Linked DNA regions of Homo sapiens: region 1 is linked to region 2. A link means that fine-mapping ties the variant in region 2 to the expression of a gene that starts in the linked region. Tissue or cell type: whole blood. Region 2 holds a variant in brackets; the other region holds the start of a gene. Each region is shown on its reference strand, or each on the opposite one. Region 1 holds the start of CLC (Charcot-Leyden crystal galectin). Region 2 has its middle 12 kb from the start of RHBDD2.

Evidence for each region.
Region 1: CLC starts here. The variant in region 2 is fine-mapped to the expression of CLC in whole blood (TOPMed, PIP 0.95).

The regions. Positions count from the first base shown.
Region 1 is chr19:39,736,228-39,740,759 of GRCh38, reverse strand. CLC (Charcot-Leyden crystal galectin) reads left to right here and starts at 2,731. Exons shown (of 4, transcript NM_001828.6): 1 at 2,731-2,822. The coding sequence starts at 2,808.
Region 2 is chr7:75,864,714-75,868,939 of GRCh38, reverse strand. No RefSeq gene overlaps it. Among named protein-coding and RNA genes, the nearest start is that of RHBDD2, 12 kb to the left of the region's middle. RefSeq lists an enhancer at 2,115-2,409. The variant T/C (reference allele first, on the strand shown) is at 2,591.

The DNA.
Region 1 (4,532 bases), not on the chromosome of region 2:
GCTATGAGGATGCAAAGGCATAAGAATGATACGATGGTTTTTTTTGTATGTCAAAGATATAATTGATATTTGGATAGTGAATTACAAGATTTTCATCAGAACAAAGGTCAGCTCAGCTGGTAAACACTGTCACACTCATAATGACAGCCTGCCCACACTCTGCATCTGTTCCCCAGAATGTTCCCTCACTTGTTCTACTGACTGAACTTTTCCACCCAGCTGAAAATCCATTTTTGTTTCATTTTCTCTTCTAGCCATAAAACTATTAATAGATTCAAATGAAATGCATAGTCCAGACATACCTTGCCACTCAATCAACTGATAATTCCTGAGAAATACTCTCTGGTTTGAATTGCAGGAAGAAGTTACAGGAAGAGATATTTATTTCTTAGAAATGGAGTTATCGAGCATCTGCTGTGAGCCAGACACTTAGTAGTAAACACAAAGCTGCTGTCAGTGAACTGGCAGACAATGAGAAGTGGCCATGCTATGGCTATTCTGTGAGAGTAGAGGCATGGGGTTGTCCTGTCAGTCATGTGAAGAGTGTGATGGAAAGACAAAGGCCAGGAATCACACTGATGTTTCTGTATAAAAGAAAGGAAGGGAGGGAGGGAAGGAGAAAGGGAATAAATGCGGATCTTCTTAAAAGAAAACACCGGTTATCACTACATGGCATAAAACCATGGCACTGAAAGTTATGCATTCAATGAATATTTATTGAGCACTTACCTTGTGACAGGCAATTTATGTGGTGCAGGGATGTTCCAGGATAGAGAGGTGACTGAGCAAACCCACCTTGCTGTATAGAGTGTTAGAACATCGCTGGAGGAACAGGAAAAACAGAACACAAAATAGAAAGAGTGCTCTGTAACAAGAAGCATGGTTGCTGGGTTCCAAACTGTGATTAAATTTTTTAAAAATTTTAACTGTATTATGACCTTTATTTTTAAAATGTTTATACAAATCATTTAAGTAATATAATACCTTCTTGTGGGTAAAATTCAAACATTACAGATTTATACCTTGACCTCATTTCTTCTAAACCCAGTGTCCCCCCCTACAAGGAATGCCTTCTTTTGACATTTTCTAGTGCATTTATGAATGTTTGTGTGTACTTATGAGATCAATTTTATTTTTTTGTCGTTAAAATAATTGGTCTCGTATTATGCATGTTTTCTTCATGCCTTTTCATACTACAGCATTTCTTGAAGATATAGCCATGCCAGTACTGATAATTTTGTTTTTCTTTTATATATAGTCTATGTACTGGCTACTTAATTAAAAACTGTACTGTAAAAAATTTCAAATGTTTGCAAAAGGAGAGAACTGTCATCCCCAGATTATTTTAGAGCAAATCCCAGATATTATATAATTTCATACACAAAACCTAAAGTTTTTCGGGGGAACAGTGTGTGCTTGGAAAGATGTAGTTGAAAAGAAAGACTGAAAGCAAGTCGTAGGGCATAATGGATTTCTGAAGAAATAGTTGCAACCAGCAGAAGTATGGGCTATTGTGCAGAGGATATGGAAGTTAAAGAAGATCAATCTCTCTGCATCACTGAAAGGATTGCTGGAATGCCTGAGAAGTAAATAACATCAACATCTTTATCCACAGCTTACTAGGTGGCCAGACGCCCTGAACTGATATTTCTTCCCCAGTTCAGATGAATAGCTGGGATATTACTCAAAATTCTATTGCATATCTGTTGCAAGGAAAAGCAGTTCCTCTTTCCCTTCTGTGGTAATTTCTTACAAGCTACAGTTCTGGGCAGGGTGTGAGGGTGGTTGCCTAGAACGGGGTTTCCAAAGCTCCTTAATTGTGGCCTCTGACCCTTTTCATTGCTTCCATGTCCATACCCAGAGTCAAAACCCAAGGAATGCAGTGGGATGACATTACAAATTAATCTTAAGGAAATACGTTATATACCAAAAGAACTGTGTGATTGTGCTGATTTATATGAGCAGAATCTTGGAGTGCATGCTTGGAAATGAATTGTCAAGGTTTTAGATCAGGGAAAGTGGAATTTATTGTCGGGTCAAGCACAACTAATATTAATGCTAATGCATCCTCATCGCTTAGCTCCCACTTATGAGTGAGAAATCTCACCTTTCTCCAAGAATCTGCAGGAGAACGACAGCCTCAGATTTTGATTCACATGAAAAGAAATAGGGAAATAAGAGGGCGTACCTAAAGCCCAGGTGTCTGAGAGACAGAGTGGGAGTGGCTCTCACCTGGCAGAGCCAAGGGATCTGAGGGTGGGTAAAGAAGACACAAGTGTTTTCTCTACTTCTGTCCCCAGGTCCTGCGAATGATCAAGATCTATGCTCTCCCAGAACCACTGGAGAAGGAGGAGGAGGATTTTCTTTCAAAGCCAAGTGCCTTGCCCCCAGGATCTCCAGCTTTTTACCATTGCACAGGTTAGGAGAACGCACACCTTCCTGGTAGATTCTGCACAGTGGAGAAAAGGCTTCATGAGAAGCATGGAGGCTGGAACTCACACCACTCATCCTCACTCCATCGTCTTTATCTGTGCATTTCCCTGGTGACCCCTTCCTCCTCCAGTACCTCCCTCACTGTCGTTTCTGCTGCATCACAGGCACAGGCCTCCAAACAGGTGTGGTTGTGACTGAGTCTGTTTCTGACACCCCACCCCTTCTCACTGTGTGAGGAAACCTTCCTGGGAGGGGCTTGGAATCAGGAATAAAGCCAGAGGCAGGGCTGATAGGGGCCATTTAAATTCTGCAGCTCAGAGATTCACACAGAAGTCTGGACACAATTCAGAAGAGCCACCCAGAAGGAGACAACAATGTCCCTGCTACCCGTGAGTTAAAAAGGCACAGCCTTCAATAATCTCAGGTCACACAGAAAAGGGAAGAGGGAGATTTTATGGGATGAAAATATGAAAATTTCTACTGTGAATGCTTTACTGAGAGTTGTGGGTGTGTGGAAGAGAGACCCTAGGGCTATGGTATCTGAGATGCTCCTGGGGTAGGGGGGTAGGGGGTGTGGATGCTGGAACATTGTGACCCTCTGTGAGCATGTGATGGTATCTGATGAGAGTAAACTCTGCTAAAAATGATGTGACTTTAGACGGGATGTGTATGGCCCTCCAGGATATGGGTGGGTGTGTAAGTGATTGTAATCAGGTGACTGTGTTTTGTCTTCATGACTGTGATGTGAGTGTGTGTGTGAGCACAGCCGGACCAGTGCATGAGCATCTTTATATGCACAGTGAGCAGGTGTGTGTGACTCAGTGAGTGGCACGGCTCTGTGTGACTGTGAGTGTGTGTGCTGGAATGTGACTGGGTGTTGAACTGGGAACATGCATGTGGCCTTCTGTGCATGTGAAGGTTCCTCCCCACATAGCAGTACTCTGTCTAACTTCCCTTGTGCATCACTGTGGATCCCCGGTGACAGAACTTGTGGGATCTTGGGGCCCTTGAGTTACCGAGGACTTATCTCTGAGCATTTATGAGAGCAGAATGCATGAATTCTCAGGTGCCTTTTCCCAAGCAGAATGGGGGTGAGAAACAGACGATGGGGCTGATGGTTCCTTAGGTGGAATCTGCACACAGTGACCACTGGCTCCTGCCTCCAGCCTCAGGTCTCTCCCTGTCTCCTACCCTAGCCTGGCCTTCCCATTGAGTGCCAGGATGCTAGAGAAGGACATTGAGGGACTTGATTTAAGAGACTGAATCACCCAAAACCAGGAAGGTACAAGGCAGAGCTTACAGTGGATATTCATCAAGATGTTTGCTGAGGCCTGTAGTCTCAGCACTTTGGGTGGCCGAATTGAAAGGCCCATGTCAGGCCAGGACTGGTAGACCAGCCTGGGAGACATAGCAAGATTTCATCTTTCCAAAAATTTAAAAATTTATTGAATGTGGTGTTGCATACCGTAGTTCCAGCTGCTGGGGGGCATATGCAAGAGGTTCACTGAAGCCCAGGCCTTCAAACCTGCAGTAATTTTTTTTTTTTTTTTTTGAGACAGAGTCTCGCTCTGTTTCCCAGGCTGGAGTGCAGTGGTGCAATCTCGGCTCACTGCAACCTCCACCTCCCGGGTTCAAGCGATTCTCATACCTCAGCTTCCCGAGTAGCTGGGATTACAGGCTTGTGCCACCACTCCTGGCTAATTTTTGTATTTTCAGTAGAGATGGGGTTTCTCCATGTTGGCCAGGCTGGTCTCGAACTCCTGACCTCAAGTGATGCACCCACCTTGGCCTCCCAAAGTGCTGAGATTACAGGCGTGAGCCACCACGCCCAGCCTGCAGTGAGTTTTGATGGTGCCACTGCATTCCAGCCTAGGTGACAGTGTGACCCTGTTTCAAAAAAGAAAAATACCATCCATTTATAGATTCTAGCCAATAACTTCCCTGACCCACAATCTTCATTTGTGCAAGTACTGCGGTTGTGCTCTCAGCAATGTGTGCCCCTTCTGGGAAGGACGTCCATTGCCCATGATGATTGTGATGTATGTGCCTCCCACGCACAGGGGTTTCCTGTTCTTTCCTGTTCGTTTCCCTCTCTCTTT
Region 2 (4,226 bases):
CTCTAAGATCTGAGTGCTATGGGGGATTTAAAGCTGACAAACACCAAGCATCACAGAACAGAGTAATTAATTTCTCCATTCACTCAAAAACATTTATAAAAATGTTATAGGCTGGGCATTGTGGCTCACGCCTGTCATCCCAGCATTTCGGGAGGCCGAGGCAGGTGGATCACGAGGTCAGGACTTCGAGACCAGCCTGGCCAACATGGTGAAACCCCGTCTCTACTAAAGATACAAAAAGTTAGGCGGACGTGGTAGCACGCGCCTGTAATCCCAGCTACTCAGGAGGCTGAGGTAGGAGAATTGCTTGAACCTGGGAGGCAGAGGCTGCAGTGAGCCGAGATCACGCCATTGCACTCCAGCCTGGGCGACACGGCGAGACCCCGTCTCAACCTTGTTCTGACTTTGCTGTAATAAGCATGCATGGTTAAGGCAATGAAAGCAATATATTGTAGAATTAACACTGAGCCTTGATCATCTTTACTTTCCCAAATTATTCCATTCCCCCATTCCCCACCTCATGCAGTATACATGGCAAAGGAAGATATTAAAATTTGAGCCAGTGATGAAAAATATTTATTTTTGACACATCAGCATTTTTTTGGTAAACAGAAGTTCTAGCTATATTGCCCAGGCTGGTCTCGAACTCCTGGCCTCAAGCAATCCTCCTGCCTTGGCCTTCCAAAGCACTGGGATTACAGACATGACTATATTGGCATTAAAAAAAAAAGTTTTATTAAAATTTTATTTACTGAGGCCGGGTGTGGTGGCTCACTCCTGTAATCCCAGCGCTTTGGGAGGCCAAGGCAGGAGGACTGCTTGAGGTCAGGAATTCAAGACCAGCCTGGTCAACATGCCAAAACCTCGTCTCTACTAAAAATACAAAAATTAGCCAGGTGTGGTGGCAGGCACCTGTGGTCCCAGCTACTCGGGAGGCTGAGGCAAGAGAATCGCTTGAACCCAGAAGGTGGAGGTTGCAGTGAGCCAAGATTGTGCCACTGCACTCCAGCCTGGGCAACAGAATGAAACTCCATCTTGAAAAAACCAAAAAGGTTTGATTTACTTACAATAAACTACATATAATTACAGTATAGATTTTGATACATTTTGACATATATATATACACACATATATATACACATATATACATATACATACATATATACACATATATATACATATACATACATATATATATACACACACCCATGAAACTATCACCACAATTTAGATAATGACATACCCACCACCCCCAAAAATTATATCTCACCCCTCTATAATCCCTTCTACTCTATAATCCCTGCCTTCTTTATCCCCAGGCAACCAATGGCTGCTTTGTGTCACTGTAGATTCGTTTAGATTTTCTAAAATGTTATATGAATGGAATCGTATAATATGCACTTGTGGTTTTGGCCTAGTTTCGTTCACTCAGCCAGATGATCTGACATTCATCATGTTGTTGCTTGTATCAATACTTCTTCCCGGCTGGGTGCAGTGGCTCATGCCTGTAATCCCAGCACTTTGGGAGGTTGAGGAGGGAGGATTGTTTGAGCCCAGGAGGTCCAGGCTGCAACAGTGAGCCATGATTGCGTCACTGCACTCCAGCCTGGGTGACAGAGCAAGACCCTGTCTAACATACACACACACACAGAGAGAGAGAGAGAGAGAGAGAGACAGACAGACAGATAGACAGACAGACAGAGAGAGAGTGTGTTGCGTGACTCAGCCTTTAAGCTTAGCTTTCCCTGTGGCATAAGTTTCGGGGGTTCTGAGATTTCACATTTTCCCTTTACAGGTGCATCGTAGGGTTTAGAAGGTGATATCTCACTTTGCACAGCTGAGACAGCTCTGGGACCAGTGCCAGGCATCCCACTTAGCCAGTTCTCGGGTGGTTCCTGGATTGACCCCCAACCTCCACTGCACATCTGCAGACACCTTGGGAAGGCACGGAATGACTGCAGGGATGGAATGGTTGAGGGTTGGGTGGGACCTGGACCTCATCCACCACCTGGGCATCCCAGGGGAGCAGGACATCAGGTCCCTCCAGCCCCCAACCCCGGGTGGTCCCAGCTTCTCAGGCCCGTGCCCCAGGGAGCAGTGCGGCTCCTTGTTCAACAGGAGGCTGTCATCGGTAGAACGCAGGGGTTGGTTGCCAGCTGCGGACTCCGGCTCATTTAACTGCTCTGCAGCCCCCACGCCGGGTCCTCACTGCCCCGTGGTAGATGGACAGCTGGGTTTGGCTTCCTCTGGTCTGATGGAGAAATGGCCTCATCCCAAAGCAGAATACTGTCCTCTGCTGGCTGGCCTGTGACATGGCTCACTTACAGACGATGGCTTTAAACAGGCACCCCAATGCCCCAATTTCCCCAGGTCCATCGTACCTTCGGGCAATCCCCCAAAGTTATGAAACTGCAGCCTGCCTTCCCTAGCATTCATGTGCCATGCTCTCTTTCCCCACATTCATAGGATGGGCACAGTCTGCAGGTCCACTGCCCAAGCACACATCCCCTTGGGAAGAAATGCCAACTCCCTCCCAACCCTGCTGGCTGGCATCCCTTAGATGTGTCCAACACTTGCCTTCAGCAGGGCA[T/C]GGGAAGCGAGACAGGCAGGAGTCAAATAGTGTAGGCAAGCCCTTGGAGGCCATGGCGAGGAAAGTAGATGCTGTTTCCAAGGACAGTGGGAAGTTGCTTAGAGAGGTTAAGCTGGGAGGGTAATGACTAATGACCCATTTATATTTTCGAAGGAATGGGAAACAAGCACTCAAAAACATTGCTGATGAGATCGAAAATGGGTGCAATTTTTTTTTTTTTTTTTGAGACCGACTCTCGCTCTGTCACCCAGGCTGGAGTGCAGTGGTGCAATCTCGGCTCACTGCAGCTTCCATCTCCCAGGTTCAAGTGATTCTCCTGCCTCAGCCTCCTGAGTAGCTAGGATTATAGGTGCACGCCAGCACGGCTGGCTAATTTTTGTTTGTTTGTTTTTTGAGATGGAGTCTCCCTCTGTCACCCAGGCTGGAGTGCAGTGGCGCGATCTCGGCTCACTGCAACCTCTGCCTCCTGGGTTCAAGCAATTCTCCTGTCTCAGCCGCCCAAGTAGCTGGGACCACAGGCACCCACAACCACACCTGGGTAATATTTGTATTTTTAGTGGAGACGAGCTTTTACCATATTGGTCAGGTTAGTCTCGAACTCCTGACCTCAGGTGATCCACCTGCCTTGGCCTCCCAAAAGGCTGGGATTACAGTCATGAGCCACCGCACCCAGCTGGGTGCAATTTCTATAGAAGGGAATCTGACAATATCTATCAAAATGACAAATGTACATATATTTGATCAATTTCACTTCTAGGATTCTAACTTGTAGATATCCTTGCTTAAGTGCAAAGTGGTTTAAGAAGTTATTCATTGCAGCATTGACTGCCAGAATAAATGATTAGAGATGACCCAGATGTCGATCAATGTGGGAATGATTAATAAATTATGGCGCGTCCTTTTTTTTTTTTTTTTTGAGACATATTGCTGTGGTGGGATCTCAGCTCACTGCAACCTCCGCCTCCCAGATTCAAGCGATTCTCCTGCCTCAGCCTCCCAAATAGCTGGGATTACAGGTGTGTGCCACCATGACCTGCTAATTTTTTGTATTTAGTAGAGACGGGGTTTCACCACGTTGGCCAGGCTGGTCTCAAACTCCTGACCTCAGGTAATCCACCCACCTCAGCCTCCCAAAGTGCTGGGATTACAGGCATGAGCCACCATGCCTGGCCAATAAATTATGGTGTGTCCTTTTGAAGTAATCCTCTGCAGTCATAAAACCAAAAAAAAAAAAAAACCCCAAACTAAGGAAGCTAGTATCCATACAGAATGCTACCTAAAATATTTTATTGAGAGAGGCAAGGTTCCTAACAGTGATTATAGTATGTTACACAAATAACAAAAGGCTTTAAAAGGTATAGGAGAGGCTAGGCACAGTGGCTCATGTCTGTAATCCCAGCACTTTGGGAAGCTGAGGTGGGAGGATCACTTGAGCCTGGGAGTTCGAGGCTACAGTGAGCTATGTTCACAACACTACACTCCAGCCTGGGTGACAGAGAGAGACCCTGTCTCAAATATATATATATTTTGAAACAGGCCAGGCACAGTGGTTCATGCCTGTAATCACATTGCTTTGGGAGGCTGATGCAGGAGGATCTCTTGAGTCCAGGAGTACAAGACCAGCCTTGGCAACATA